6 linked regions of the Homo sapiens genome follow. The protein of the gene in region 5 interacts with the protein of the main gene of each other region in a pairwise test. Each region holds a gene or a part of one and is shown on either strand. Other genes may lie near its edges. The genes, in order: MORF4L1, PBK, SOX5, CARD10, ZBTB26 and RNF4.

Region 1 (5,536 bases), on a different chromosome or scaffold from region 5:
CCTTTTTCCTGTTCCTGAAGGAGCTCCCTCAGTACACCACCCCCTCCTGACCTCTAGGTAAATGCATGTTTTGAAATTTTCTCTAGGAAATCATGTTCAGGATTGCTTTTTATTATTTTCCTCTTGGCTGTATTATATAAGAGGTCAGAGGTGGGAAATCATTAAACAAAAGAAAGTCTTAAATTTTTTTTTGTAATTGGGTGCCTTGAGAGTACACCTAATTGTGTCACTAAAGGAGCTCCATCAGCAGGAGAAAAGATTTACTGCTCAAAAAAAGTTAGCATTCCCTAAGAAATTACATTGTTTTTGTTTGCCATTTTGGGGGAAAAAACACATAATCAGAAATTGTGTTTTGAACAAGCTCTTTGAAGTGCCAGAATGTCTTAACATTTTTGAGAGAGTTGGTTCTGCCTTCTAATATTTAGAAAGCCAGCTTTCTGATCAGCCTTGAAAGTTATTAGTGTGTATTCATTTGTGACTGAATGAAGGTGGAGAATGGTGTCAAATCATTTTAATACTTTACAAACTTAAGTTAGTCTAGTTGGTGTTTGAGTATTGTAGACTTCCTAATATGTTTCTGACATACCTTTAGTGTTGTTTTGTGTCAGGGATTCTCAGGTGTTTTACATGTATTCTCATAACAGTTATTTGAGATAAGTACTGTTGTTATCCTCATTTCATAGAGAATGAAATGAAAACACAAAGCTATATGGAACTTTGTCATTACACACAGCTGGTTTTAATTTTTAAAAATAACTGAGTTTTTGACTCCTGTGCTTTATTTTTGACAATAAAAGTCTTTAAGATAACATAAGACTAATCACTTAGTGAATCTTACATTAAGTGCCAAACTCTTAAGCCATTTCTAAAAATGATTTGAATAATCTGCTTTTGGACTCTGGCAGCTTAGATTTGGAATGCTGCTTTTTGAAAATAAAAAGTTTTCCTTTTTACAGAACAGACTTCCATTAGATCTTCATTTTAGTTGAGAATATATTTGTAGTGCCAGTTCATCAAATTACTTAAGAGAAATCCAGTCTTGCCTCTTGATCTCAGAAAATTAGTTGGAGAACAGAGTATTTTTGAGTTAAATTTTAACTTTCCTCTTTTTCAGTTGGGATGAATGGGTTCCGGAGAGCAGAGTACTCAAATACGTGGACACCAATTTGCAGAAACAGCGAGAACTTCAAAAAGCCAATCAGTAAGTTTGTTTTGTGAACTGAATATTAAGGAGAAATGCCTGTAGATTAATTCTGGACATGGAATGAACAATGGAGATCATGTTGGCTGCCCTGCCTATAAAATGATTCCTGGTACCTTTCAGCTGCTGTGTTACAGCTTTGACTTCAAGCGATCAAGCCATATCTAGGTAAAGGAAGTAGCATACCTGCCATTACTTGAGCTTATCTTAGACCTAGGTAGAAAACAGCAGAATGTTGTTGGAAATTGCTATAGGTATGAACTCACTGATAAAAATCTTTATTTTCGGGGGCTCTGGAAGACAAATTTGGTGGGGAAACAAGCAAACGAGGCATTTCCTATTCTGCTTTTCATCTCTGAAAGCACGGGAAAAGGGACCCTGAAAGACTCTATGATTTATAGGGTAATCTCAAAGTTGAAATGTATTTTTAAAAAAATTAAAACGATGGCTGGGCGCAGTGGCTCACGCCTGTAATCCCAGCATTTTGGGAGGCCAAGGCGGGTGGATCACGAGGTCAGGAGATCAAGACCATCCTGGCTAACACGGTGAAACCCCGTCTCTACTAAAAATTCAAAAAATTAGCCGGGCATGGTGGCGGGCGCCTGTAGTCCCAGCTACTCCGGAGGCTGAGGCAGGAGAATGGCGTGAACCCGGGAGGCAGAGCTTTCAGTGAGCGGAGATCGCGCCACTGCAGTGTAGCCTGGGCAGCACAGTGAAACTCTGTCTCAAAAAAAAAAAAAAAAAGAATTAAAATGGTAATGGGAACAAATAAAACACTGGGATTAGTGAATTCCAAAACAAATGGAATTTTCAATGCTATGAGAACAGTCTATTACAGTCACTTTTTATTACATTGATTTTAATTGAGCCTTTTGCTGTTTCTTGAGTGTTTTGTTTGATTTTTGTGGAAATATCTCTGTCCAACTTGTTAAAAACTTGTTGCCAGAATTTGAATGTAAATTCCTAATGGAATCAGGCTGACAATTTTTTTTTCACATAAATGCTCATTTTATGTTGACATTACTGAAATTATTTTTGAAGGGAGCAGTATGCAGAGGGGAAGATGAGAGGGGCTGCCCCAGGAAAGAAGACATCTGGTCTGCAACAGAAAAATGTTGAAGTGTAAGAAGCTCTTTGTTTTGATTTTGCATACTATATGTGAAGATAATATTTTATGTTCATTGTGTGTTAGACTGTGTTGAAGTGGAAACTTTGGAACATTGTTGGAACCAGTAAGAATCCCATTCCTCAGGTATCAGGTCGTTAAAGTAGTTTAAAATAACGTATTCCTTAATTTTCCTCAGCAGGTTCCCCCTCCCTTTAACTTGTGTGTATAAATATATGTGTGTGATGTTTTCTCTTACAAAGATAGTACTAGTGGTTATAAGTTTTGAGATAACTTTTGGCAAGCCTTTTCAAACCTAAAAAGCAAGTGCTGGCAAGTGCTAAAAATACATACGAATTAACCTCCACTTTGGTGAAACTCATGGTAAGAATATGTGAGAAGTTAAGGTTTCAAATAACTGCCCTCCTCATCCCCACCCCTAAGAAAACCATTGCTTTTTTTTGAGACAGAGTTTCCCTCTTGTTGCCCAGGCTGGAGTGCAGTGGTGTGATCTGTGCTCACTGCAACCTCTGCCTCCTGGGTTCAAGTGATTCTCCTGCCTCAGCCTCCCAAGTAGCGGGGATTACAGGCGTGTGCCACCACGCCTGGCTGATTTTTGTATTTTTAGTAGAGATGGAGTTTCACCATGTTGGTCAGGCTGACCTCCTGACCTCAGGTGATCCACCTGCCTTGGCCTCCCAGAGTGCTGGGATTATAGGCGTGAGCCACTGCTCCTGGCACAAAACCATTACTTCTTGTTAACTCTAGATTTTAGAACATCTGATAAGAAGCCTAGAGTGAGAAAGTCATGTGCATGCATACATTTTGTATGTTTAAAGTTTATGTAGGACGGTGCGGTGGCTCACACCTGTAATCCCCCTACTTTGTTTGGGAGGCTGAGGCAGGAGAATGGTTTGAGCCCAGGAGTTTGAGACCAACTTGGGCAACATCGGGAGCCTCTGGTTCTACAGAAAAATAAAAAAATTAGCTCGGGGGTGGTGGCACATGCTTGTAGTCCCACCTATTCAGGAGGCCGATGTGGGAGGGTCACTTGAGCCCAGGAGGTCAAGGCTGCACTTTAGTCTTGGCGACTGAGTGAGATCCTGTCTTTTAAAAAGAAAAAAAAAAAAGTTGATGTACCTGAAAGTGGATGACAAGAGTGGTAACTTAATAAGTATTCTTAAGTATTTGTAATAATAAAAACAAAAATTATAACTTTTATTAAGAGGTCATTTTATTTCCTACCAGAATTACTGATCTGATTTTTCTACTTAAAAGTAAGGTGTTACACCCAGTGCTTTGGGAGGCTGAGGTGGGAGGGATTGCTTGAGGCCAGGAGTTCTAGGCTGCAGTGATCTGTGATTGCACCACTGCGCTCCAGCCTCTTAAAAAAAGTAAGGTGTTACTAATGAAGGTATTTAGTATTTAATGCATTTGGAGATGTTTGAAGCTTTTTATTTTTTTTTAAACTCTTTTTGGTGAGAAGATAATTGGCAAGGATTAAGTGTGTTACTATTTGAGGATTGTTCATAGTTTTAATAAGTGGTAACATGTTTTCATGATCTGGTTCTTTGGAAAACTGTAGTGTAGTATTTCATTAGGATTTAATAGTAATTATGTCTTAAAAGGCAGTAATTTTCTCTATATAGAAAAGATTTTTATCAAAAGTAATAGTTCATAACTAATTCTTTATCACTGTGCTAAGTTATTATATAGAAATCTTAAGTGGTAGTATGCCCATAAGTTATTTGCATTTGAATACAGCATTGTGCAGTCTCCACTACAAAAATAATGGCTGAGTAAATATATGAAGTAAAGCTTTAAAATTTAAATTTCCCATTCTTGAACAGTAGAAGCCTCTTCAAACTGGCTTCTGAGTCTTTTGAAGGATCCTCAGTCTAGACGTTTGAAGCATGAATGTCAAGCTCTTACTACTAGGACTTATTGAAGTGTATGGGTTGAATATCCCTTATCTGAAGTGTTTCGGACCAGAAGCGTTTCAGATTCCAGACTTTTTTTGGATTTTGAAATGTTTGCGTTATACTTACCTGTTGAACATCCCAAATCCAAAATGCTTCAATGAGCATTTCCTTTGAATGTCATGTTGGCTCAGAAAATTGGGATTTTTGGAGCATTTTGGCTTTGGGATGCTGAACTCATCTATATTTTATAGATCTTTTACTTTAGAGTTGAGATCACCTGTCAGTATTTTAGTTTTATATTACAGAGGTGAGTGGGTAAAGGATTGAGTGTGAAGACTATTGGTTTCTCTTGGTCTCCACATATTGACACGTGCAAGTAAAGTTCATGGTTGACTTTGACCGAGAAATACAGTCCAACAGATTTTTACAAAACTAACAGACAAGAGAAAACCTATACACAGATTTTTGTGTTTATATCCAAACATAAGTTAATTTGAATTGTCAAACCTTAAGACCTAAATTAAATGAATATATTTAATTAATAACATTTATAAGTATTATTTAAAGCTACAGAAAAGTAAAAAATCCAGGTGTTATAGTATCTTTCCATCGAAAGTAATCCATAATCATGGGCTCTATAAACTGTTTCCTTTGTGGTCTAGAAATAATAATGTAAAAAAGCAAAATTAGGCCAGGCATGGTGGCACACGCCTGTAATAGCATTTTGGAAGGCCGAGGTATGCGAATCACTTGAGGTCAGGAGTTTGAGACCAGCCTGGCCAACATGGTGAAATCCCGTCTCTTAAAATACAAAAATGAGCTGGGAGTGGTGGTGGGTGCCTATGGTCCCAGCTACTTGGAAGGCTGAGGCAGGAGAATCGCTTGAACCCGGGAGGAGGAGGTTGCAGTGAGCCGAGATCACCCAACAGACAGAGCAAGACTCCATCTCAAAATAAATAAATAAAGCAAAATTAGCAATTTACCATTTGACAGTATATAAGTGACGTGAGGTAAGTTGCTGTTAGAGATGATAATCAAGATGAGGAGACTTAAAACAAAAAAATTACACAAATCTAAAAATATTTTGGGGAACAAAAATAATTGGAAAAAAATTTTAACCTTTGACACCTTTTTTTTTTGGTGGGCCTAATAATGTAGTATATACTATAACATATATTAATATAACCCTGGAAGAACGAAGTTGTTTACTAAAGTGTTCTTGGTTTGCTTTTCTTTTTTTTTTGTCTTTGAGACAGGGTCTCTGTCACCAAGACTGGAGTGCAGTGGTGCAATCAAGGCTCACTGCAG
Region 2 (4,383 bases), on a different chromosome or scaffold from region 5:
TTTGTTTGAGTTCTTTGTAGATTCTGGATATTAGCCCTTTGTCAGATAGGTCGATTGCAAAAATGTTCTCCCATTCTGTAGGTTGCCTGTTCACTTTGATGGTACTTTCTTTTGCTGTGCAGAAGCTCTTTAATTAGATCCCATTTGTCTGTTTTGGCTTTTGCTGCCATTGCTTTTGGTGTTTTAATCATGAAGTCGTTGCCCATGCCTATGTCCTGAATGGTATTGCCTAGGTTTTCTTCTAGGGTTTTTATGGTTTTAGGTCCAACATTTAAGTCTTTAATCAAATTTGAAAACTACATATCTCAATAGATACCGAAAAAGTGTTTGACAAAATCCAACATCCATTCTTGATTTAAAAGTTAGTTTAAAATCTAGTTAACCTCTCAGCTAACTAGAAATAGAAGGGATCTTAGCTTGAAAAAGGCTGTCTACAAGAAAAACCTGCAGGTATCATACTGAAGTAGGGAACAAGACCAGGATGCCTGCTCTTGCCAGTTTTATTTAGCAGTCCTATAGCCCTAGCCACTAAAATAAGGCAAGAAAATGGAGAAGGCAAAATTGGAAAGGAGACGAAACTGTCCCCGTTTGCAGTTGATATGTTGTTTAGGTAGAAAATCCCAAGGAATCTATAAAACAGCTATAGTGAAGTTAGTGATTACATTTCTGTGTATTAGCAGTATATAATTGAAAATGGAATTGTTTAAAATCTATTTACAAGTACCAAAACCCAAAATATTTCGGAATAAATAACCAAAAAAGTCTAAAACCTCTGTAATGAATACTATAAAGCATCACTGAGAAAATTCAGTAAGATATAACTAAGTGGAGAAATATATGACTGCGGTTTGGAAGACTCAATACTATTAAGATGTTAATGCTTACTAAATTGATCCAGAGATTTAGTCCAATCCTAATGAGAATTTTAGCTGGCTTTTTCATTGAAATTGACAAGTTGACTCAAGTTTAAATGGAAATGTGAGTGGACCTATTTCTTTCTTGGGCTTTAAAAAAGAGCCTATGTGTGATTGGTCCCTTTCCCTTTTCCTTGACATAGCAATCATGGAAGCATAGAAATGGTACTTCTCTCAGCCTAATATTGTTCACAAAATGAAGAAATTCAGGTCTAGAAGTGATCTGCTCAAGGTCACGCAGCTTGCACACACATGTCTTTGAACCAACCCAAGCAAGGCAGTCTGGCTCCAGAGTCTGTAATCTCAACATCCACATTCTATATTCCTACTAATTTGTAAGAGAATTGCTGTTTCTCTACATACCTGCCAACTGACCAGCTTCTTGAATATTTACCAACCTGAAAGGTAGAAAGTAATCCTTATTGAGGTTGAGTGTATTTTTACATTTTCTGGCTACACTGATTAACCTGTGAACTACTTGTTCAAATCGTTCGCCTGTTTCCCTTTGGGTTGCTTGCCTTTTCGTGATTTGTAGCTCCTGCCTTCATAACCATCTTGCTTGTTTCAGTGACTGACCCTGAGGCTTGTTACATTGGCACAGAGCCATGGAAACCCAAAGAAGCTGTGGAGGAGAATGGTGTTATTACTGACAAGGCAGACATATTTGCCTTTGGCCTTACTTTGTGGGAAATGATGACTTTATCGATTCCACACATTAATCTTTCAAATGATGATGATGATGAAGGTATGAATACAATTTCTAACATAAATCCCAATCTCTTCATTTCACACTAAAGATTATATAATTTTATCTTTCTAAGATATGTATTAGTACTGATGACTGATTTGGTACCACCAAGGTTTAATCTCACACAAATGAGACATAGATTGAGAATAGGGAGAAAAATTGAGGCTATCCAGAGAAGCAAAACATTATCTTAAAAACTCCCCTTTCCTGAGAAAATGATTGATTGGAAAACTATCACAGGAAGGGTAAAAGTAGGGGTCGATAACCTATAAATCCAAGACTAAAGCAAATCTACTTGATGGCAGGACAATTGAAGACATTTCCATTCTGTCTGTGGCAGAATGGAAAGCATACTGGACCATAAATTCTTGTTTCAGGAGAAGGGTGAGCTATTAAACTTTTCCATGACATAAAGTGATTTTGTTTATTGTTTCAATCTCTAACTCCTTCAAGATAAAACTTTTGATGAAAGTGATTTTGATGATGAAGCATACTATGCAGCGTTGGGAACTAGGCCACCTATTAATATGGAAGAACTGGATGAATCATACCAGAAAGTAATTGAACTCTTCTCTGTATGCACTAATGAAGACCCTAAAGATCGTCCTTCTGCTGCACACATTGTTGAAGCTCTGGAAACAGATGTCTAGTGATCATCTCAGCTGAAGTGTGGCTTGCGTAAATAACTGTTTATTCCAAAATATTTACATAGTTACTATCAGTAGTTATTAGACTCTAAAATTGGCATATTTGAGGACCATAGTTTCTTGTTAACATATGGATAACTATTTCTAATATGAAATATGCTTATATTGGCTATAAGCACTTGGAATTGTACTGGGTTTTCTGTAAAGTTTTAGAAACTAGCTACATAAGTACTTTGATACTGCTCATGCTGACTTAAAACACTAGCAGTAAAACGCTGTAAACTGTAACATTAAATTGAATGACCATTACTTTTATTAATGATCTTTCTTAAATATTCTATATTTTAATGGATCTACTGACATTAGCACTTTGTACAGTACAAAATAAAGTCTACATTTGTTTAAAACACTGAACCTTTTGCTGATGTGTTTATCAAATGATAACTGGAAGCTGAGGAGAATATGCCTCAAAAAGAGTAGCTCCTTGGATACTTCAGACTCTGGTTACAGATTGTCTTGATCTCTTGGATCTCCTCAGATCTTTGGTTTTTGCTTTAATTTATTAAATGTATTTTCCATACTGAGTTTAAAATTTATTAATTTGTACCTTAAGCATTTCCCAGCTGTGTAAAAACAATAAAACTCAAATAGGATGATAAAGAATAAAGGACACTTTGGGTACCAGAAGGTGTCTCAGCATTATTTTATACTTCATTGATTTGAGTGTTGTCATTAAACTTGAGTAAATGTGAGGTTTCTTTCCCTCTCTTGGCCTTATTTTGCTAATCTATAAAGTGTTTTGGATCAGTAGTTTCTGTAAGCCACAGTCCCCTGGGAATTTTCCAAATTACTGAATTGCCAATGTAGGTGGTATACCTACATTTGGGTGTAGACAGAATTTTAAAAATTACCGACACAGGGCGTTCTCAGAAACATTAGGAACAACTGCACTCTGAACTTTAAAAATGCCTAGAAATCACTGAAGGCCTTTTGGTATAAGATTGTACCAAGCAATAGGACACAACATTAATTTGCATATATTCCATCAAAATAATGTGACAAGTAAATTGGAAGTTGTCTTAATTTGTAGAAAAACGTATGTATAATTTTGCATCCTGATACTCAATAGGGTCTCTTATCCTCACTCTGACATGTGTCACTCTTCTTTGCCAAGCCAACAGAGCAGCTTCTCCAGGGCATTCTTTTCCTAGCAGGAATAGCAGTTCCTGCTTTAAGACTTAAAGCAGGAACTGGATCTTTCTTGAATTGGCTCTTTAATACATAAGCCATTGCTTTTCATTGAGAAATTTATTTCCACTTCCTACAGTTGAGATATCTAATAGGAATAAACTAATACCAAGGACAAGACCAGCAAATTCACAGCCCTTGTCTATGGTAGACATTACAAAATAATCCCAGCATGCACTGCCCCTTGAGTCTGGTGAGGTCCTAGAAATCCTCAACACAAGATTGCAGACAATCTGCTACCAACTGGAAGAAAATTTTTTTTATTCTTGTTCTAGAACTTGCTCTAAGTCTCAGATGTTATCTTTTTGGACATTTGCCTCATTCTCAAAAGAGCAACATGTGACTTGGCTGAGGGCTTTTTTTTTTTTTTTTTTTGAGACAGGGTCTTGCTCTGTCACTCAGGCTGGAGTACAGTGGGGCAATCATGGCTCACTGCAGTCTCAACCTCCCAGGCACAAGTGATCCTTGCACCTCTGCCTCCCACTCCGAGTAGCTGGGACCACAGGTGTGTGCCACCACACCTGGCTAATTTTTTTTTTTTTATTTTTTGTAGAGACAGGGTTTTACCAAGTTGCTCAGGCTGCTCTGGAACTCCTGAGCAACCTCTGTCTAGGCCTCTCAAACTGCTGGGATTATAGGCGTGAGCCACCGTGCCCAGGACTACCTTTACACTGAATTAATTAGTAAATCAAAATAGCCTTCTCTCAAGTGGCTTTCTCACCTCCCAGGAAATCTTTCCCTTTAGAATCTGTAGAAGCCTCCAGGAGCTTGTTATGCCTCCATAAAAGGAGATAATCAGCAGCTACTTGAGAAATGTTGAAGATGA
Region 3 (5,536 bases), on a different chromosome or scaffold from region 5:
TACTACTGAGGGCTGCCAGCACGCTGTCACCTCTCAATCCGAACATCAGAAGGAACAAACTCCGGACACACCGCCTTTGAGAACTGTAACACTCACCGCGAGGGTCCGCAGCTTCATTCTTGAAGTCAGTGAGATCAAGAACCCACCAATTCCGGACACATTACCACTTCTATTACACATAGCCATACTGACAGAATCCAAGTTTTAAACCATATCTAAAATGTGAATTAGCATAAACTATTTTTATTTAAGCTTCAAACTTGTCTTTTTTAATCCCAGCTAAATTCACACCAAAATTAATAGTGAAAAGAAAGGGGGAAAACAATTTGGGTTATTATTACTAAAGCAGACTGTATCATGGGAAGTGACGTCTTTGTATGTTATTGAAATTGATTTATTAAGAGAAAATCGTAATACGCATTTACAGTAATTGTGACCTCTGCTATATTTTGTATAGTAGGTGGCCATATGTAGGAAAGGGCATACATTATAGCACAATTTAAGTTATATCAAATCTGAGTTTGAGTCACAGATCTGTACTTCAGTAATTATGACCCTGGCTAAGTTAGTCCATCTATTTGAATCTCAATTTTCTCATCTATGAAAATAGATAGAAATGCTGTCTCTTTTATAAGATTGAGGTGAAAGGTAGGAAAAAGACATCAGTATGTCAAGGTTTCAGCACAGTGTCTGGCACATAGTAGTTACCCACTCCATGTTTATTAATATTATAATTTTAATTATAATTAAATGTTTAATCAAAGGAATTTTTAATTACTACCATTCCTGTAAGCTTAAAATACTTAAACATTTTGGGGAGGATGAGACTACATGATATATGTTGGGAACTTTTGTAGTAAAAAACATCTCCCACATAAAAATATTCAATAACTAGATAATTAGTCTCAGATTCAAAATGCATGATAACATATCATGTAACTTTTCTGTTCACATGTGAATTATATCATGATCTAATGTAGAAATGAGAAATGTATCCATTAAATTATCTATGAGCTTTAAGGGACATAATACAAAAGTTTGGCTAGAATGCAAACCAGAAAAAAAAAAATACTGCCCAGTGTTTATATCTTTAGGTACAAAACCACCACCACCTCTGTTCTTGTGGGATCTCACTAATCAAAAACAGGTTTATGTATTTCTGGGTTTTGGCTAACATCTCAACTTTAGATTTTCTTGTTCTCAGCCATATCACTTTCTGGAATGCTTAGAAGCTGTGCAAATTGGAATCCTAACCTCCTTTCTTCATAGGATCTCGCTGGAAAGCTATGACAAACCTAGAGAAACAGCCATATTATGAGGAGCAAGCCCGTCTCAGCAAGCAGCACCTGGAGAAGTACCCTGACTATAAGTACAAGCCCAGGCCAAAGCGCACCTGCCTGGTGGATGGCAAAAAGCTGCGCATTGGTGAATACAAGGCAATCATGCGCAACAGGCGGCAGGAAATGCGGCAGTACTTCAATGTTGGGTATGTACCTTTTAGTCATTTTTCTCATGGGGCAAACTTCCTGTTATACTTAATGGGATGTGAAACATATTTGTTCAGTTGCAAAAAGACATTTTGAAAAAGAATCTGAGCTCACAGTATTTTCAGAGACAAATAGTCTCCCACATGATCTTGAAAAATATGTCCATATGAATCCACTGCAAGTTCCTAGCTCTACCATGAGATTTGTTAACAACTGGTTTAAAAACAAGATATCTACAAGCAAATGATTTTGAAGTTTTCTATTAAAAACTTAGAAGTATAACTGGTTCTTTTCTTCATTGGTTTGCATTACTTCCTAAGCTTCACCATGATAAATTCTAAAACTAACAACTTTGTTGAGACAATACAAAATAAAAATCATTTCAAAAGCAAAAATACTTATTTCTAAATATAGAGAGGTTAGTGAGCTATCAAGGTACATGTGTGGCCTTTGTGGATCACACAAGCTAGGGATTATATTTAGGGTGTAACAAGGTTGGGAACAGGAGGTTTCATTCTGAATTGAGAACGCAGCTCCGAGATGTTTTACAATGCTCCCGTGGCAAGGTTGTTGACAGTGCTGTAGATGGGCTACAGAAATGCATTGCTTCTATAGAATTCTCTCAAAAACCCAAAATAAAGTTGTTCATATTTGAAACAGAAGTTAGTTTCTAAGAGCTTCTTAGAATAATAAATATTGTTCTAAATATGGGCAGAGAAGGACTCATAAAACCTTTCCAAATCTGCTCTGTCCCCTCCAGTTCCTTGGAAGAGGCTGCATGCTCTGTCCAGTGGTCTGTGATTCATATGCAAGCACATGACTCCTCACAAAGCTAAACACAATGCCCAACAGTTCTTGGGCAAATAGTAAACATACGAATGAATAAAAACAAGCATAAATGCACATCATCTATTCATCCTTTCCAATAGGACCACCTACATTATTTATAGGACCAGATGCAAAAATGAGGAGACAGGGTCTCTTGTTAAAAAGTTATTAAGAATTTCAAGTCTGTGGCAGCACAACTTTAAACCAAGTATGGGACCTTAGTGCAGTTGCACAGTTTGTACATCCATGAAGCTGCTCCTGCTTCCTACCACTACGAGGCCAGAACTGTTTCAGAGACTCAGTGGACAGTGTGAATTTGTTCAGTTCTGGTGTGTTCTGGGCAGTAAAGTTTTATTTTGAGAACTCTAATGCTTTAGGATTTTCCCATTAAAATTTAATTATCTTTAGATTTAATTCTAGGGAAAAATACTATTTCTGCATGTTATAATGAAAGAAAAATGAACTTGGAATCAAGGACCTGGGTTCTTCTGCTTCATCTTTCTGCACCTCAGTTTTTTAATAAAACAGTAGTAACAAACAGGATTAAGAATAAGATGGACAACACATGTCAATATCTTGTACTCTATAAAGCACTACCTAAACATAAGGTATTAGGCCTGGTGCGGTGGCTCACGCCTGTAATCCCAACACTTTGGGAGGCCGAGGCAGGTGGATCACCTGAGGTCAGGAGTTCAAGACCAGCCTGGCCAACATGGTGAAACCCCGTCTGTACTAAAAATACAAAAGCTAGCCAGGTGTGGTGGCAGGCGCCTGTATTCCCAGCTACTTGGGGGGCTGAGGCAGGAGAATCGCTTGAACCCTGGAGGGGGAGGTTGCAGTGAGGCAAGATCACGCCATTGCACTGCAGCCTAGGCAACAGGAGCGAAACTACGTCATCTCAAAAAAAAAAAAAAAAAAAGAAAAGAAAAGAAAAACAAGGTATTAAAGTTCAAGTAGGATGGAGTTTGAAAAATGTTAGGCAATTAGATAAAATTAGTACCTTAGAATTGGACATTGCTGAGCAAATTAATTATGTAGTAAAGTCCACATCTAACTATTCACTTACCCACGATGTCTTTTTGGAAATTCCTTTCTTGACAGGCAACAAGCACAGATCCCCATTGCCACTGCTGGTGTTGTGTACCCTGGAGCCATCGCCATGGCTGGGATGCCCTCCCCTCACCTGCCCTCGGAGCACTCAAGCGTGTCTAGCAGCCCAGAGCCTGGGATGCCTGTTATCCAGAGCACTTACGGTGTGAAAGGAGAGGAGCCACATATCAAAGAAGAGATACAGGCCGAGGACATCAATGGAGAAATTTATGATGAGTACGACGAGGAAGAGGATGATCCAGATGTAGATTATGGGAGTGACAGTGAAAACCATATTGCAGGACAAGCCAACTGATAAGGGTCAAAAGATTGTTGTGACCTTAGGACTTAAAGAAGCCCTAACTGGTTCATCCTTACCAGTGGCCAAGCACATTAACTTTCTCATACACTGACTGTTACTTTAACTGTTAGTCTTAAATAGTTGGGACATCAGCTGACTAATAGACCTCAGCCTCAAAAGGCTTGGAAAGAAAAAACAAATACAACAAGCAAACAACAATATCAACAACAAGAGATTGAAATAAGCTATGGGTAAAATAATGCCAGTAATTCAGCTGCTACATCCAAGCACTGAAGTCTTACCCGTCAACTTTTTTTTTTTTTTAAATAAACTTTATGGCTGTTTGTTCTACAATGTTCTAGAAATTCTCACTCAGGTACACAGTGCCAACAAGTGGCTTGTGAATGTGTTTTGTTGTTTTGTGCTACAATTTTTAAAAAGAAAAAAGTTTTGTTTTGTTTTTTGGGGTTTCTGGGTTTTTTCCTTTTCTTTTTCTTTCCTTTCATTTTTTTTCTTTGTAATGCACCTGACAGAAAAAAAAGAAAAATGAATTTCTCTTTACTTCTCTCCACCTTCTCCATCTCTCTACTTTAAAGATGGAAGTCTGTGCATGAGGGGAAAGAGGGAAAAAGAGCCTGTTTTTAACTTCCTTGCTATCCACCACAAAATAAGCAATTATTTTCTTTAGAGGACTTTATCTATTGCACACCACACTACATCTTTGAGCAAGTGCCAAATTTGTACTGAAGTGTTGACCAAGTTCATTTTTTCTCTTTACTTTTTCCTTTTCCTTCTTAAGTTAGGACAGTGTTAAATCTTAGACAATCCCTTGAAAAACCTGAAATACCAGCAGCTGGTGAGATTTGACTTTTTTTTTTAATGGAAACTGTAGGTGCTGTTCTCAGGTGAAAAGAGAGAGAGAGAGAGAGACATAAGAAATTTAGAGAAAAATATTTTCTGATCTTGGATTTTTGTGTGTATGTATGTATGTGATTATGGTACTAATAATAGGAATAACGTTGGACCATTGTGAGTTAAACCCACATCTGGGGATGAAATCCCACATCCTCCCAAGTGACTGGTCTAGAAATAATCTTGACCTTGACTTTGCACTTCAAATGACAACTTAACCAAGTATAGGGCTCAGAAATTATATTTTTAAATGTCTGATTATTATTGGATGGATCAGGTGGCCCTGTGTAATAGAGGTGTGCATGTATAACATGGAAGCTACTAGCAAACTGCTCCCAGATGTCCTTTCTCCCTGGTCAGTTGGTTCCATTAACGTTTGCTACTTAGTGATTTTTGTTTTTCCTGTTGATATTTTGAGCAAAACAATCATTGTTTTCATTGAATATATTTGGCCATTTTTTCAGACAAATAGAATTAGCTTATTTCTTCAACATTCCATCCTTTCCCGATCAGGAAATGAAACTGATGATTTTATAAGGTATTTTTCACCCCTCCATGAAGTGAGGTGGAGGCCTTTAGCATTTCAGAAGTGTGGGCCATATGTAGTTCATGCCATAAAAAGTAGGATTTAATTAAAAGTCATTGCAGCCCAATAAAATGGAGCCTGGCTGCACCCAGGGATCCTTGCCACTGCTCTTCCCTTGCTGTCAGATTAATCCACTGAAGTCCAACTTTGGTTCAAGCAGAGTATTTGCAAAGAGCAACAACTGAATGTGATGGGACTGCTTATGTAGATTTTGCCAGCCAAATGCCAAGGCAGTTGTAGGGCCTGTACAAATAAATGCAAAATCATTTCAAGTCAATTGCCATTATTTGTATTGAAGTATCAGATAGATAGTAAATACTGCAACTAGTAGCT
Region 4 (4,813 bases), on a different chromosome or scaffold from region 5:
AGCGGAGGCAGGAATGGTTCTGCACCCGGGTTGACCCCCTCACTCTGCGGGACCTGGACCGGGGCACCGTGCCCAATTATCAGAGGTGACGCAGAGCCAGGAGCTGGGGATGGGGTCCCCCTGGGAGCCAGGGCTCAGATGGGGGTGCTCTCCCTCCACCTGCATTCCCTCACCATCCTCTGGGACAGGGCGGGGGGTTCGAGGAGAAATGAGGAGCTTTCCTTCTTTCTACACACATGATGTCACTCCCTCCCACAGAGCCCAGCAGCTCCTAGAAGTTCAGGAGAAATGCCTGCCCTCCAGCCGGCACCGAGGCCCCCGCAGTAATGTGAGCACGGCTGGGCAGGTAGTGGGTGGGGGGCCCCAAGGGTGGGGTCCAAAAGGGAGCTAGCAGGCTCTGTTCTCTGGCAACCTAGGAAGACACTCCCTCCCTCCTTCCCTGGTGATTTAATTGGTCATCTACTATGTGCCCAGCAAACAGAACAGCAGAGCTCACCGTCCAGGGTAGTTTAGAGATGAAATGAGGTAAAGCGTGCCTAGTATGCAGGAGTACCCCTGGTACATAATAAGCATTTGACAGGCTGGGCACAGTGGCTCACGCCTGTAATCCCAGCACTTTGGGAGGCCGAGGTGGGCGGATCACAAGGTCAGGAGATCGAGACCATCCTGGCTAACACGGTGAAACCCCGTCTCTACTGAAAATACAAAAACAAAATTAGCCGGGCGTGGTGGCGGGTGCCTGTAGTCTCAGCTACTTGGGAGGCTGAGGCGGGAGAATGAAGTGAACCCGGGAGGCGGAGCTTGCAGTGAGCCAAGATCGCGCCACTGCACTCCAGCCTGGGCCACAGGGCAAGACTCCGTTTCAAAAAAAAAAACAAAAAAAACAAACCAGCAGTCATGTCCCCTTTTCCAATGCCTGGATGGTGGCTGGGCTTCGTGGCCAGCGCTGCTGTGCACATGGGCAAGTGAGGCTCAGAGCCATCAGATAAAGGAAGAGCGAGGGCCCCAGCCAGGCAGCCTGCATTCGACCCCAGCTCTGCCACCTATCAGCTGTGTGACTTTGGACAATCACCTGAACCTTCCTTGAGGCTTGTTTCCTCATCTGTAAAGTGCGGGGGTTGTACTGCCTGTCAGGCTGTGCGTGGCAGGAGATGACTTCCGTGAGTTAGTGCCCCTCAGGGGCTTAGTGAGTGTCTGTCATGTTGTAGGCATTTGAGACCTGTCAGGTATTGGTAAAATCAGTGCCATCTTTATTGGTTTCATTAATTTTTCTACCAAGGTCACATTGCTAATTCATTGGAAGAGACCCTAAAGTTTGCCTCGTATGTGACATTTGGTTCCTCTTGGTCTCTGGGCCTCAGTCTCCCCATCTGTAGCTTGGGGGGTATACCTAAGGCTCCTCCACCAGGCTCAGACGGGCTGGCTTCCCGGGGGCCACAGGGATGGCTGCTCTCATCTGCCTGGGGGACTGTGCTGGGCTGGGGAGGGGCAGGGGAGGGCCTGGTGGAGAAGGACATCTTTGCTGACCCAGGCTCTTCTGGCAAGCCTGGACCACAGTGGCAGTGGGGCCCGCTGTGCCAGGGGTCCCGTTTCCTCCTCTCCCTGAGGGGGCGGGGCTGAGCTCTCAGATGCTCCTCTGTCCCTGCACCCTCCCAGCTGAAGAAGAGAGCCCTGGACCAGCTGCGGCTGGTGAGGCCCAAGCCCGTGGGGGCGCCTGCAGGGGACTCCCCGGATCAGCTGCTGCTGGAGCCCTGTGCAGGTGAGTGCGCGGGGGCAAAGCTGTATCCCGTGTTGCTCCCATTGTCCAGGGATGTGTGCAGCTGAGTGTCCTTTAGCTTGGGTGGCCTCTTTGGCCTGGAAGGGCCTGTTGTGAGGGTTCCAACAGGAGTGGGGGTCATGCTGGGGGCCTGAGAGACAAGACCACCCCACCTGCCATGGTGATTGCCAAGGTTGAGGGAGACCCTGCGGGGAGGTGCATGCAGACGTGGCTGTGACTGTGGGTTTGCACACATACTGGCTTGTTCTTTTCTGGCAGAGTGTGTGTAGTGGTGCTTCTCACACGTGTGTGGTGGCAGGTGCTGTGAGGACCCAGGGGGGTTCCCGGAGGCAGTAGGGTGAGGCCTTAGGCCAGACAGGTAGAAGGGGCTGGGGGAGCTCAGATGAGGGAGTAGCAAATCTGGGGCAAGAGGAGCGGGTAGTTAGGGAAGACTTCCTGGAAGAGAGGGAGTTTCCGCGGGGGCCTTCAAAGTTAAAGAGGAGTTCGTTCCAGGCAGAAGGCACAGAGGCATGGCTGTGTGTGGTGTGCTTGGAGGGTGTTGGGGACAGCAGGTGAGTATTGAGTACCAGCTCTGTCAGGCATTGGGGACGTGACTGTCCCTGCCCTCATGGAGCTTGCTGTCTAATTAGGGGGTAGAGAGTCAGATAATCCCACCTATGAACACAATGAGAGAGTGTGAGGTGTGCAGTGGAGAACTGGGGGCCGTGGGGCACATGCCAGGGGCCCTGATGTCTGGGGACCAGGGAAGGTGTGACCTAGGCTCTGAAGGGAGGGCAAGGGTTAACTGGGCTGAGTGGTGCAGGGCTGGGGCTTTGGGCAGCCCCAGGGCATGCAAAGGCCCTGTGGTTGGACGCAGCTGAAGGGAGAGTGGAGGCTGGTGGTGTGGGGTCAGTGGCTGGCAGCCTCCCCAGGCTCTCAGGCAGGACTGTGTCACCCACGTGGGGGATGTGGCTTTTATTCCTGAGAATCTGGGAAGTCACTGGTGTGTTGAAAGCAGGGGAGTTAACATGATCTGATTTGCTTTTTAAAGCCTCTCTGGCTGCTGGATGGAGAATGACCCGTAGGGGGCAGGGATGAGGCAGAGAATCAGGGAGGAGCCTACTGCCACCGTCGGTCCTACTAAGGGTGTGTGTGTGTGCATGTGTAGGAGGAGCAGCAGCAGGACTTAGGAAGGGATGGGTGGCGGGGTGGGTTTTGGGGTATCGACGAGCTGGTATGCTGCCTGCCTGTGCCCTTATCTCTTTTGCGCCCCTCCCCTGCCACAGAGCCGGAGCGGAGCCTCAGACCCTACAGTTTGGTGCGGCCGCTACTGGTGTCTGCCCTGCGGCCCGTGGTGCTGTTGCCTGAGTGCCTGGCGCCCCGGCTCATCCGTAACCTGCTAGACCTGCCCAGCTCCCGGCTGGACTTCCAAGTGTGCCCAGCGGGTGAGACTATGTGCCGGGGAGGGGAGGCTGGGTGCCCCTCTGGGCAGCCGGGCCCATGGATCCTTCATCTCTCCCTCTCCACTCCCTGTGCAGAAAGCCTCTCTGGGGAGGAACTGTGCCCATCCTCAGCGCCTGGAGCCCCCAAGGCTCAGCCTGCCACCCCTGGGCTAGGCAGCAGGATCCGGGCCATCCAGGAGTCTGTTGGGAAGGTGGGTGCTGGGGGCTGGCCTGGGGTGCTCACAGAGGTGGCCCAGAGCGGGTGCTGCTGTTCTGGGCTTGAGCGCCAGCGTCTGAGCGCGGGCCATGCTCTGCTGCTCACTGGCAGGGCGGCCCTGGCCAAGTCCTTTCCCTCCTGTGGCCTTCAGTTTCCTCACCTGTTGCCTGGGTGGGTGGGGGCAGTTGACTGCATGTGGGCCCCCCTTGAGGTGTTTGGCTGACACAGCTCACCTACACATCCTTATCCTTGAACTTGCCACTATCCTGGGAGCTGGCAGTCGGCTATAAGGTGGCGGGTGGTGGGTGGGTTTGGGTCAGCTCCATCCTCCGGGTGGGGAGGCCTAGGTCCTGAGGGGGAGGTCTGTATCTCCAGGTTGCCCCATGAGCCCAGGCCTCTTGTCTGTACTTTTGGGCTCCTTCCTCGTTGCCAGGGTCCCTCTGGGTGGGGAGGCAGGACTTGCATCTGGGAAGGCGGTGATAGGGGACCCGTCTGGGGGCAGCGCATGGGAGGCTGATGTCTGTGGCCCAGGAGTACATTGTAGCCTCGATCCTCCAAGCAGAAGCACTGCCTGCTGGAGCTGGGTGCTCGGGGTGTGCGGGAGCTGGTGCAGAACGAGATCTACCCCATCGTCATCCACGTGGAGGTGACTGAGAAGAATGTCCGGGAAGTCAGGTGAGGTGGGTGGGTGGGGCAGTGGGCAGGGCACTCGGACCTGAGAGCTTCCTCCTTGAGGATGCCTCTCTCCCTCCCCCCTCTCTCTCCCTCCCCCTCTTTCTCCCTCCCCCTCTCTCTCCTTCCCCCTCTCTCCCTCCCCCTCCCCCCTCCTTCTCCCCCTCTCTCTCCCTCCCCCCTCCCTCCCCCGTCTCTCCCTCCCCTTCTCTGTCTCTCTCTCTCCATCTCCATCTGCCATCTGTCTCTCTTTGGTTGTCCATCTTCTCTCTCTGACTCTTCCCCCTTTGTCTGTCCCTCTCTCCCTGTCTCTCTGTCTGTCTTGGTCCCCCACTTTGACCGCTGCTCACTCTTCTCTCGGCAGGGGTCTGCTGGGCCGGCCGGGCTGGCGGGACTCAGAGCTGCTGCGGCAGTGCCGTGGCTCAGAGCAGGTGCTCTGGGGGCTGCCCTGCTCCTGGGTGCAGGTGCCCGCCCATGAGTGGGGACACGCAGAGGAGCTGGCCAAGGTGGTGCGCGGCCGCATCCTGCAGGAGCAGGCCCGCCTCGTGTGGGTGGAGTGCGGCAGCAGCAGAGGCTGCCCCAGCAGCAGTGAGGCCTGAGGCTCATCTGATACCTGCACCTTCTCCCCAAGCCAGCGTGGACCCTGGTGTCTATGGTGAAGCTGGGCCCTCCCACCCTGAGCCTTCCTAGACCCTTGGACTCTCAGATGCAGGGCCCTTGGCTCTG
Region 5 (5,536 bases):
GCCGAGTTACACAATTATTATCCTTGAGATAAAACTGTACCAGCCAGGTGCAGTGGCTCACACCTGTAATCCCAACACTTTGGGAGGCTGAGGCAGACAGATTACCTGAGGTCAGGAGTTCAAGACCAGCCTGGCCAACATGGTGAAACTCCATCTCTACTAAAAATCCAAAAATTAGGCCTGGCGCAGTGGCTCATGCCTGTAATCCCACCACTTTGGGAGGCCGAAGCAGGTGAATCACCCGGGTCGGGAGTTCGAGACCAGCCTGACCAACATGAAGAAACCCCGTCTCTACTAAAAATACAAAATTAGCCAGGCGTGGTGGCGCCTGCCTGTAATCCCAGCTACTGGGGAGGCTGAGGCAGGAGAATCACTTGAATCCGGGAGGTGGAGGTTGCGGCAAGCCCATTGCACTTCAGCCTGGGTGACAAGAGTGAAACTCTGTCTCCAAAAAAAAAAAAAAAAAAAAATTAGCTGGGCATGGTGGCAGGCACCTGTAATCCCAGCTACTCAGGAGGCTGAGGCAGGAGAATCACTTGAACCCAGGAGGCAGAGGTTGCAGCAAGCCGAGATCACGCCATTGCACTCCAGCCTGGGCAACAAGAGTGAAACTACATCTCAAAACAAGAAAAAAAAAATTGTACCTAGATTAGTTGTTTCATACCTGGATTTTGGCATCATGCAGTGTAAACCACCAGTTCCAGATCTAACACTTAACACTTTCAACCTCCGTTGGGGTTTACAAGTTATTTATGTTTTCTAAGCTTAGTTTCGTCATATACAAAATGTGGGATAATGGTAATACTTACCTGTAGAAATTTTCACGATTAAATGGGTCAATTTATTTATTTATTTATTTATTTATTGTGATAGGATCTGGCTCTTTCACCCAGACGAGTGCAGTGGCATGATCATGGCTCACTGCAACGTCTGCCTCGTGGGCTCAAGCCATCCTCCCATTCAGCCTCCCAAGAAGCTGGGACTACAGGCGCATGACACCACGCCCAGCTAATTTTTGTATTTTTTGTAGAGACGGGGTTTCACCGTGTTGGCCAGGCTGATCTCAAAGTCCTGAGCTCAAGCAGTGTGCCCACTTCAGCCTCCCAAAGTGCTGGAATACAGGCATGAGCCACTGTGCTCGGCCTAAATGGGTCAATTTAGGTATAACATCTATACCTGAAATGTAGCAAGGAAGATTAGGTATCATTTCTCTTATTTTTAAATAAAATTAAGATGGTTCATAAGAAACTTTTTTTAACTATCAAAAAAAATTTTTTTTAAGTGTTTAAAACAGGTTCATGCCTGTAATCCTAGCACTTTGGGAGGCCTTGTGGGAAGACTGCTTGAACCCAGGAGTTTTAGGTTACAGCGAGATTTGATTGCGCCACTACACTCCAGCCTAGGCAACACAGCGAGACCCTGCCTCTACAAAAAATAAAAACATTAGCTAGGTGTGGTGGTGTGCACCTGTAGTCCTGGCTACTCAGGAGGCTGAGGCAGGACGATTGTTTGAGCCTTGGTGCCAAGGCAGCAGTGAGCTATGATTACGCCACTGCATTCTAGCCTGGGTGACAGATGACAGAGTGAGACCTTGTCTCAAAAAAAAAAAAAAAAAAGAAAGTTGAAATTTGGTTTTATATTGCCAAAACTATTTTGGTAACAAACCCTAGAAAGAAAGCTTTCCCTAGGCACTCAAAAGAAGATATCATAATGAAGAGCATCTGTACCATAGCCTAGTAATAATTTCATGGGGGAACATTAAGAACTCATTATTCTTCTGTTTTTTGTCAAATGAGCTGTATAAAGTATAACAAACCATTGGTCATTGCCCTCAAATAACTAACAGTCTATTGGAAAGAGAAACTAGTGAAAGGAAACAATTAAGGGATAAGATGTGTGGCCTGGAAATAAGAATTTATCAGAGAGAGACAATAGAGTGGGCTGACACATCCTAGGGAAAACATCCTTTAAGAAACCAATAAATTTTGCTCACATTCTTAGACTACAGCAGACAGATCAAAGCAAACACTTCCCTGAACTATCTGGTTGGCTGCTGTTGTTGATAATTTTCTTGAGAACTGATGGATAGGAAGCACAGTCATGCATCACTTAACAACTGTGATGTGTTTTGAGAAATGCGTCGTTAGGTGATTTCATCATTTTGTGAATATCACGGAGTATACTTAATGCAAACCTAGATGGTATAGCCTACTACACACCTGGGTTGTATGACACAGCCTGTTGCTCCTTGGTTATAAACCTGTACCACATGTTACTATACTGAATACTGTAGGCAATTGTAACACAATGGTGTTTGTGTATCTAAATATAGAAGAGGTACAGTAAAAATATGGTATTATATTCTATGGGACCATCATTGTATATGCAGTTCATTGTTGAACAAAACACTGTCATATGACACATGACTAAATGAAACTACACTCCAGCTCTTCATCTTTAGAGCAAGGAACAATTGTCTCTGAGGATAGTTGTCTAAAGCATTGTGAGTACTGTCATAATATAGGTAGAACCAATGAATGCTTATTTTGGGGTGTGAGGAGGGAAATACTGATCTGAGGGTTTCATAGGCACCTTCAAAACCAGCTAAATGCTAAAAAAGAATGCCACTTTTGTTTGGCCACTTGAAACAGTCATTTTTACAACTCTGGTTACAAATTGGAACATTCATCACTCCAAATCCAAAATGAGTATTTTAAGCTACTGCAGTTGCTAAAAGTGACCAATGATAATAGTTTTGCTGCTTTAAATTACTGACATTTTCCCTGTATATCTTCTACATTTTCCCTTCATGTTTGATACTCACTGTCTTTTCTCTGATGTTTCATTTGCTTGTCTACATCGCTCCTCTCTCAATGCAGTTTTTGTATTTATTGTGATTATCGGTACATTCAAAATGTCATACAAGGGGAAAGATTATGCTTTGTTTGTGTTTTTATTAATATACTTATTACTTCTTCTTATATTGGTGCCACACCAGTTCCCCCTCCTAAATTTCACCTCTCTTTCTTTTTTTTTTTTCTTTTTTTTTTTTGAGATGGAGTCTTGCTCTGTTGCCTAGGCTGGAGTGCAGAGGCGCAATCTCGGCTCACTGCAACCTCCACCTCCCGGGTTCAAACAATTATCCTGCCTCAGCCTCCCGAGTAGCTGAAACTATAGGCGCCCGCCACCATGCCGGGTAATTTTTTGTGTTTTTAGTAGAGATGGGGTTTCACTGTGTTAGCCAGGATGGTCTGGATCTCCTGACCTCGTGATCCACCAGCCTTGGCCTCCCAAAGTGCTCACAGGTGTGAGCCACTGTGCCTGGCCGGTCACCTTCTTTCAATGCCATTCTCATTCAAATGAACTCCTAAATGTAGAATCTTTACACATTCCTTTTATTCATTCTCTATATCCAGTCAGTTACCAAGTTCTTTGAAATATCTTTTGTTATTTTTCCTTTCGTCTTATTCCCATTTTTATTTCTTTCTAGGCCATCATGGCCTCAGACCTGCAATGCTTCTGCAGACACTAAGCTGGTCTTCCTAACAACAGTTCTTCCTTACCACTGTCAAACTAATCTGATAGGTTCAACTAATGCAAACTGAGCACTTGCTGTGTATTTAGTGCAGTCTTAGGCGATGGGAATACACACTGATTTGAACAGAAGAGGGTTTGGCCAGTAATGGGACAAGCAATGTAGCTGCAATAAGTATAATATAATTCAAAGCAAAAGTAAAGAATATTTTGTCTTAGAAGATGCAAGTTCCCAGCATTAGATGGAGATACTTCCCCCTAATACCATGAAACTTGGAGTTTGGATGGGAAGGAATAAGTATTTAATAAAGTGTGTTGAGTGTTACAGTAGAAGTATGCAATGGGCCCAGAAGAGACAATTCTACTCTATTAAGCGGTCAGGGAAGGGCCTCTCAGAGAAAATAAAGGAGTCACAATTGTTTAGAAAGTGGTGTTTTTGTTTGTTTTATTTTACTTTGTTTTTTTAGACAGAGCCTCATTCTGTCACCCAGGCTGGAGTGCAATGGCACAATCTCGGCTCGCTGAAACCTTCACCTCCCAGGTTCAAGTGATTCTCCAGCCTTGGCCTCCTGAGTAGCTGGGACTACAGGCACGTGCCACCACACCTGGGTAATTTTTGTATTTTTCATAGGGACAGGGTTTCACTATGTTGGCCAGGCTAGTCTCGAACTCCTGACCTCGTGATCCACCCACCTCAGCCTCCCAAAGTGCTGGGATAACAGGCATGAGCCACCATGCCTGGCTTGTTTTTTGTTTTGGTTTTTGTTTTTGTGATGGAGTTTTGCTCTTGTTGCCCAGGCTGGAGTGCAGTGGTGCAATCTTGACTCACCACAACCTCTGCCTCCCGGGTTCAAGTGATTCTCCAGCCTTAGCCTCCTGAGTAGCTGGGACTACAGGCATGTGCCACTACGCCCAGCTAATTTTGTATTTTTAGTAGAGATGGGGTTTCTCCAAGTTGGTCAGGCTGGTCTTGAACTCCCGACCTCAGGTGATCCGCCTGCCTTGGCCTCCAGAAGTGCTGGGATTACAGGCGTGAGCCACCATGCCCAGCCTAGAAAGTAGTGTTTTAAACTAAGGAAACAAGTATCATTAGGTCTGGAGCCAAGAGAGAGCTGTTATGTATCAGGCATTAAGGAATAAGAATAAAACCTGGACTCTGCCATCAGGAGCTGATATCCATTGTTACAGAAGTTAAGATGATAAAGATTGGACTTTGGGGTCCAGATGTGGCCAGGAGAAGCTGGTTGTCTCATCTGACTCTGAACTAAGGGGTTGATTAATACATAAAATTCAGTGAATTTCTTGATGCACTGAGATTATAGAGCTATATCTCAAAGACAGACCTAGCATACCTACCAATCTCATAGAAGACTGGTATATAAAGAGAATGTCAATTCATTATGTCATTAGTTTACAGTGACTAGTGGACTGGAATTATCGTGTTGGCATGGCAAATTTATCTTTTCCCTTGAGAGAGACAAATGGGAAGCCAGGTTATGAGAAAATCATTTATGAGAGTATGGAATCAGAACATGGAGACTTTCACCAAAGGAATTGCTATATAAAGGAATCAGTATGCAGACAGTTTGGGGAAAGATACCTTCTCCATTGTTGAATGGGTTTTTCCAGTGTTTACCTTAATTATGATTGGGTTTCATTAATCAGTTTATATTCAAGAGGTTAGTCTTCATCCAGGAGACAACGGGAAGTCACTGAAGGAGTTTAGGCAGGGGTGGGGTATAATCAGATCTCTGTTTTTGAAAGATGTGGTGGTATGAAAACTGTATTAGAGGGAACATAAGCAGGAAGCCAAGGCAACATTTATGAATCAGTTCTAGTAGTCCACATAATGACTAATGATTGATAAATAGGGATAAAGTTTAAAGAACAAAATCTAATAGGGATTGATTCGATCTATGTTACCGCTACTCAGATTCCCACCATATAGCTCATGTCGTTTTTCTACATCAAGTATCTTATTTTCTTTATAAAGAAGTGTTCC
Region 6 (5,536 bases), on a different chromosome or scaffold from region 5:
GTGACTTATTCATACATTATAGAAACAGACCAAAAAAAGATTCCAGAAAAATCAACCTTACTAAGAGACAATCTTTGGAAATTTAAGAAAAACAGCCTAAGTAACATTTTCAATAACCTTCCCCTTAAAGAATCTCGATTCCTTAAAGAGAGTTGCCAGTCTCTTTTCTACCACTGCATTGCTTCTAGCCAGAGCAGAGACTGGCATACTGAAAATGCTCATGAAAAGTGACCCAAGGTCAGGCTCAGTGGCTCACAACTACAATCCCAGCACTTTGGGAAACCAAGGTGGGAGGATCACTTGAGCCCAGGAGTTTGAGACCACCCTGGGCAATACGGTAAGACCTTGTCTCTCCAAAAAAATATAAAAAATCAGCCAGGGATGGTGACATACCCCTATAGTCCCAGCTACTTAGGAGGCTGAGGCAGGAAGCTCAATTGAGCCCAGAAGGTACAGGCTGCAGTGAGCCGTGATGGCACCACTGCACTCCAGCCTGGGTAACAAAGTGAGACCCTGTTTCAAGGGAAAAAAAAAGAAGAAGAAGAAGAAAAAAAACAAATTTGGAGAAAGCACACAACTTGGAAAAAAAAAAAAGATTATTTGCTGTTAAAAAGCAACCAAGGAGGCCGGACATGGTGGCTCACGTCTGTAATCCTAGCACTTTGGGAGGCTGAGTCAGGTATATCACTTGAGGCCAGGAGTTCAAGACCAGCCTGGTCAACATGGCAAAACCGTCTCTCCTAAAAATACAAAAATTAGCTGGCCGTGGTGGTGTGTACCTGTAATCCCAGCTACTCAGGAGGCTGAGACATGGGAATCGCTGGCACCCTGGAGATGGAGGTTGCAGTGAGCCAAGACTGTGCCACTGCACTCCAGCGTGGGCGACAGAGCGAGACTCTGTCTCAGGGGGGAAAAAGAAAACAACAAATGGTTTGCTTTGTTCTAGTTCAATTTTTTCAACGATTTAAAAAGTTTATAGGACTCAAGGAACCAAAACTGTATCTGATGGCCTCAAGGGTTATGTTTGAAGGCTTGCTGACTTGCAGAAAACTCAAGCTGACTGTTCAAGATGTTCAGGGCAAAAACTGCCTAGCTTCCATGCGTGGGTCTTACCCATGACAAAATGTGTTGTGTGATTTAAAAATGGCAGACCACCCGGGTGGATCACTTGAGGTCAGGAGTTCGAGACCAGCCTGGACAACATGGCAAAATCCTGTCTCTACAAAAAATACAAAAATTAGCTGGGCGTGGTGGTGCATGCCTATAGTCCCAGCTACCCAGGAGGCAGAGGCTGCAGTGAGCTGAGATCACGCTACTGCATTCTAGCCTGAGTGACAGTGAGAAACCGTCTCAAAAAAAAAAAAAAAAAAAAAAAAAAAAAAGGCAGACCATGATTGAAGCTCATGTTGATGTCTAGACTACCAATGGTTAAAGAAAACCTCAGCACCAACAGGTCTAAGATGATGGAAATCATGACCCAAGGCCGGGCGCGGTGGCTCACACCTATAATCCCAGCACTTTGGGAGGCCGAGGCGGGCGGATCACGAGGTCAGGAGATCGAGACCATCCTGGCTAACATGGTGAAACCCCGTCTCTACTAAAAATACAAAAAATTAGCCGGGTGTGGTGGCGGGCACCTGTAGTCCCAGCTACTCTGGAGGCTGAGGCAGGAGAATGGTGTGAACCCAGGAGGCGGAGCTGGCAGTGAGCCAAGATCGCACCACTGTACTCCAGCTTGGGCAACAGAGCGAGACTCCATCTCAAAAAAAAAAAAAAAGAGAGATGCAGACAAATAACTTGAAAGAAGTGGTGGAGAAAATTATTCCAGACAGCACTGGAGAAGACACAGAAATGCCTGCAAATCTATTTATCCGCTCCACGATGTCTTCTCTGTGAGGAAAGTTAAAATGCTAAAAACACTCAGGTTTGCATTGGGAAAACGTAGGGAGCTTTGTGGTGAAGACAGCAGTTCTGGAAAAGCTACTGGGATGAGCTAGGTACTAAAGTGAAAAGTCCTATTTATGATGAAAAAAGTTTATATACGAAAGTTGCATAAAAAAAAGCTATGTAACAGCCAGGTGCAGCGGCTCATGCTTATAATCCCAGCACTTTGGGAGGCCAAGGCGAGTGGATCACCTGAGGTCAGGAGTTCAAGAACAGCCTGGGCAACATGGTGAAACCCCATCTCTACTAAAAATATAAAAAATTAGCCTGGCATGGTGGTGCGTGCCTGTAGTCCCAGCTACTCAATAGGCTGAGGCAGGAGAATTGCTTGAACCCGGGAGGCGGAGGTGAACTGAGTGAACTGAGATCGTGCCACTGCACTCCAGCCTGGGTGACAGAGTGAGACTCTGTCTCAAAAAAAAAAAAAAAAAAAAATACAAAAAATGAGCCGGGCATGGTGGCGGCTGCCTGTAGTCCCAGCTACTCTGGAGGCTGAGGCAGGAGAATGGCGTGAACCCAGGAGGCAGAGCTTACAGTGAGCCAAGATCACGCCACTGCACTCCAGCCTGGGTAACAGTGCAAGACTCTGTCTCAAAATAAATAAATAAATAAATAAATAAATAAATAAATAAATAAAAGCTATAAAACAAAGAAGTTTTAAACAGGCACTTCACAAAAGAGAAAAATAAACATGAAAAGGTGTTTGATCCCATTTGTAATAAAAAAGCACAAATTAAAACCACAATGAGACACCACTGGACAAGCATCAGAATGGCTAAAATTAAAAGTGGCCATGAGGATGTGGAGAACCTCAAACACTGGCATGAATGTGAACTGCTCCCTCTTTAGAAAAGTCTGGCATTTATCCAGTAAAAATCAAAGACACTCACACCTCGGGACACAGCAGTGATGCCTTTTCTAGGCTATGCAATGCCAAAAATGAAAGTTCATTTTGAGGGAAACTAATCAAATGAGATGAACAAAGTCTCTCACTGCATCTTACCGCATTTTTCATTTCCCTTCATTTTTCAGGGGCTTTGAATTCCTTCGAAAGTTGGAAGAATGTGCACACCTGTATGCAAAGTTTCCAGTCTTTTTTTCTTTTTTGAAGAAGACAGGGTCTCACTATGTTGCCCAGGCTTGCCTTGAACTCCTGAGTTCAAGTGATCCTCCTTGCTCAGCCTTCCCAGTAGCTGGGACCACAGGCACAAAGTTTAGAGGGTTCCCTGATGTTCTGACGGCTACCTCTGGATCCTGGTATCCAGGGATTCCTATATTACAGGTACAGAGCTACTGGAGCTAAAGCAGTGCACTCAAACTATTCGACAGGTCCTGGCGGAACTGGTAAGGAAGGTTACCCCGCTTCCAGAATGAATACATTTATCCATTTTATACTCTCCTGCAGGTGCAGCCTAGGGTCACCCTGAACACACGATCCATCTACAGATGCCCCTTATCCTCAGTGACTAGCATTAGAGGCCTCCCAAACAGATCTGCTCAGAGGCAGAATTCCAAACTCAAGTATATGTCTCAGTGTAAATTCATAAACTGGCACTTGGACTTATTAAAATCAAAAATAAGTAGAGAATGATTAGCAAGAGCTATCAAGTCCAAAGCAGTTATTTTGTGGCTGACAACACTGAGGACAGTGTGAGATAAATCCACTGATCAAACTGACCAGTAGATCTGAGAGACCAGAACCTAGGACTCCTGCTTCCCAAGCCAGGAGCGTCTCCCTTTTACCTATCAGCTCTCCCTCTGGCCACCCATCCACTTTCCAGGGTAGCTCCCTCAACACCAATATTCCTGGTCCCCGGGTCTCCCAATGACTGCAGATCTTATAAAGGTTAACCAGACAGCCCCAGGTTAATTGGGAGTAGGACTGCCAACATGGAGCCCTAGCCCAGGGAAACAGAAGAAAGGTAGGGAAGTTCAGAGAGGAAGCCCTTTTAGCAAGAGCAGCTTAGTCATCAAAACAAAACAAAGCTGGCCAGTGTGGTGGCTCACACCTGTAATCCTAGTGCTTTGGGAGGCTGAGGTGGGTGACTGCTTGAGCCCAGGAGTTCAAGACCAGCCTGGGCATCACAGTGAGACCCTGTCTCTACAAAAATATTAAAAAATCACCACCACCACCCGACCCAAATTTAGTAGTGTATGGTGGCATGCACCTGTAGTCTCAGCTACTCAGGAGGATAATGTGGGAGAATCACTTAAGCTCAGGGGTTGGAGGCTGCAGTAAGGTGTGATCATGCCACTGCTCTCTAGCCTGGGCAACAGAGTGAGACCCTGTTTCTTTTCTTTTCTTTTTTTTTTTTTTTGAGACAGAGTCTTGCTCTGTCGCCCAGGCTTGAGTGCAGTGGCGCGATCTTGGCTCACTGCAACCTCCGCCTCCTGGGTTCAAGTAATTCTCCTGCCTTAGCCTCCCGAGTAGCTGGGATTACAGGTATGCATCATCACACCTGGCTAATTTTTGTATTTTTTTTTTTTTTTGAGATGGAGTCTCACTCTGTTGCCCGGGCTGGAGTGCAGTGACGTGATCTCGGCTCACTGCAACCTCTGATTCCTGGGTTCAAGCGATTCTCCTGCCTTAGCCTCCTGAATAGCTGGGACTACAGGCGTCCGCATAATTTTTGTATTTTTAGTAGAGACAGGGTTTCACCATGTTGGCCAGGCTGATGTCAAACTCCTGACCTTGTGGTCCGCCCACCTCGGCCTCCCAAAGTGCTGAGATTACAGGCGTGAGCCACCGCGCCCAGCCTGAGACCCTGTTTCTAAAGCAAAAGAAAACACAAGTGTGAAAGGGGAAATGATGTTGGTTTGTCAGCCAACAAAAGCCAATCAATCATTGTCTTCCTGCAGTCAAAATCCTAGCTCTCTCCTCAGGGTCTGGCAGAGAGAAGGCCAAGAAGACTGTGGTGAACACTGAGTATTCAAGAAAAACAAAAAACAAAAAACAAAAAAACTTCTGCAGACACCACTTTCCAGCTTTAATGAGCAACTGGTGAAACCAAGGTGTCAGCTGGGAAAAAGAAAGAGGGGAAAAATCAGTGACTGTGCTGTAGCTGCCAGCTAATATACCAAATTAGTTATCTTTCCAGAACTCCATGCAGGACACAGGGATGATAAGCAAAGTCATATGTGTGTATGTACCTCAGAAAACACGTTAATGAGACCTAAGCAGGGACCACGTACAACTAAACCCACTGCTGCTTATCTCAGATGGTTTTCCATCCCTGTCCTTTTCTTTGCATTGAAGTCTTGAAACTTCTCAGTATAACCCTATTCTGAAGTTCTCAGCACAACTAAGAAGCAACACCTATGGGGTGTCCCTATTCAGATACCCAGGCATCAGCCAAACAGGATAACCCCAACACCAGTGAGCCCAGGGCCAAGGCGAAGACTCAGCTACTAGCAGCCCCCACACCCCACAGTCCTCCTCAGCAGCACTTACCACCCCACTGCCAATGCTGCCAAGTGTGCCCCCACCCCGACCTGTGTTCCGAGCACACTGTCAGAAAACACTCAAGTGGCATCTTCCAGAGGCAAACTTGCCCTTAAGATGCTGACCAGATTCCCAGACCTGCATGCACCA

What was found.
Region 1: the proteins of ZBTB26 (region 5) and MORF4L1 interact in binary tests that used the Homo sapiens proteins (3 or more experiments, as listed by UniProt).
Region 2: the proteins of ZBTB26 (region 5) and PBK interact in a two-hybrid assay, tested with the Homo sapiens proteins (2 studies listed by BioGRID and IntAct).
Region 3: the proteins of ZBTB26 (region 5) and SOX5 interact in binary tests that used the Homo sapiens proteins (3 or more experiments, as listed by UniProt).
Region 4: the proteins of ZBTB26 (region 5) and CARD10 interact in binary tests that used the Homo sapiens proteins (3 or more experiments, as listed by UniProt).
Region 6: the proteins of ZBTB26 (region 5) and RNF4 interact in binary tests that used the Homo sapiens proteins (3 or more experiments, as listed by UniProt).

The regions. Positions count from the first base shown.
Region 1 is NC_000015.10:78,885,027-78,890,562, forward strand, and holds part of MORF4L1 (mortality factor 4-like protein 1), read left to right. Parts: coding exon of another isoform or gene 1-57; intron 58-1,114; coding exon 1,115-1,201; intron 1,202-2,242; coding exon 2,243-2,323; intron 2,324-5,536. UniProt on the Homo sapiens protein: Component of the NuA4 histone acetyltransferase (HAT) complex which is involved in transcriptional activation of select genes principally by acetylation of nucleosomal histones H4 and H2A.
Region 2 is NC_000008.11:27,808,234-27,812,616, reverse strand, and holds the end of PBK (lymphokine-activated killer T-cell-originated protein kinase), read left to right. Parts: exon of another isoform or gene 1-1,449; coding exon of another isoform or gene 1,450-1,482; coding exon 1,483-1,659; exon of another isoform or gene 1,660-2,115; coding exon 2,116-2,312; 3' UTR 2,313-2,993; downstream 2,994-4,383. UniProt on the Homo sapiens protein: Phosphorylates MAP kinase p38. Seems to be active only in mitosis. May also play a role in the activation of lymphoid cells.
Region 3 is NC_000012.12:23,532,403-23,537,938, reverse strand, and holds part of SOX5 (transcription factor SOX-5), read left to right. Parts: intron 1-1,269; coding exon 1,270-1,486; intron 1,487-3,416; coding exon 3,417-3,720; 3' UTR 3,721-5,536.
Region 4 is NC_000022.11:37,491,032-37,495,844, reverse strand, and holds part of CARD10 (caspase recruitment domain-containing protein 10), read left to right. Parts: coding exon 1-85; intron 86-258; coding exon 259-328; intron 329-1,656; coding exon 1,657-1,759; intron 1,760-3,042; coding exon 3,043-3,201; intron 3,202-3,294; coding exon 3,295-3,410; intron 3,411-3,977; coding exon 3,978-4,090; intron 4,091-4,451; coding exon 4,452-4,686; 3' UTR 4,687-4,813. UniProt on the Homo sapiens protein: Scaffold protein that plays an important role in mediating the activation of NF-kappa-B via BCL10 or EGFR.
Region 5 is NC_000009.12:122,920,700-122,926,235, reverse strand, and holds part of ZBTB26 (zinc finger and BTB domain-containing protein 26), read left to right. Parts: intron 1-5,536. UniProt on the Homo sapiens protein: May be involved in transcriptional regulation.
Region 6 is NC_000004.12:2,501,570-2,507,105, reverse strand, and holds part of RNF4 (E3 ubiquitin-protein ligase RNF4), read right to left. Parts: intron 1-5,536. UniProt on the Homo sapiens protein: E3 ubiquitin-protein ligase which binds polysumoylated chains covalently attached to proteins and mediates 'Lys-6'-, 'Lys-11'-, 'Lys-48'- and 'Lys-63'-linked polyubiquitination of those substrates and their subsequent targeting to the proteasome for degradation.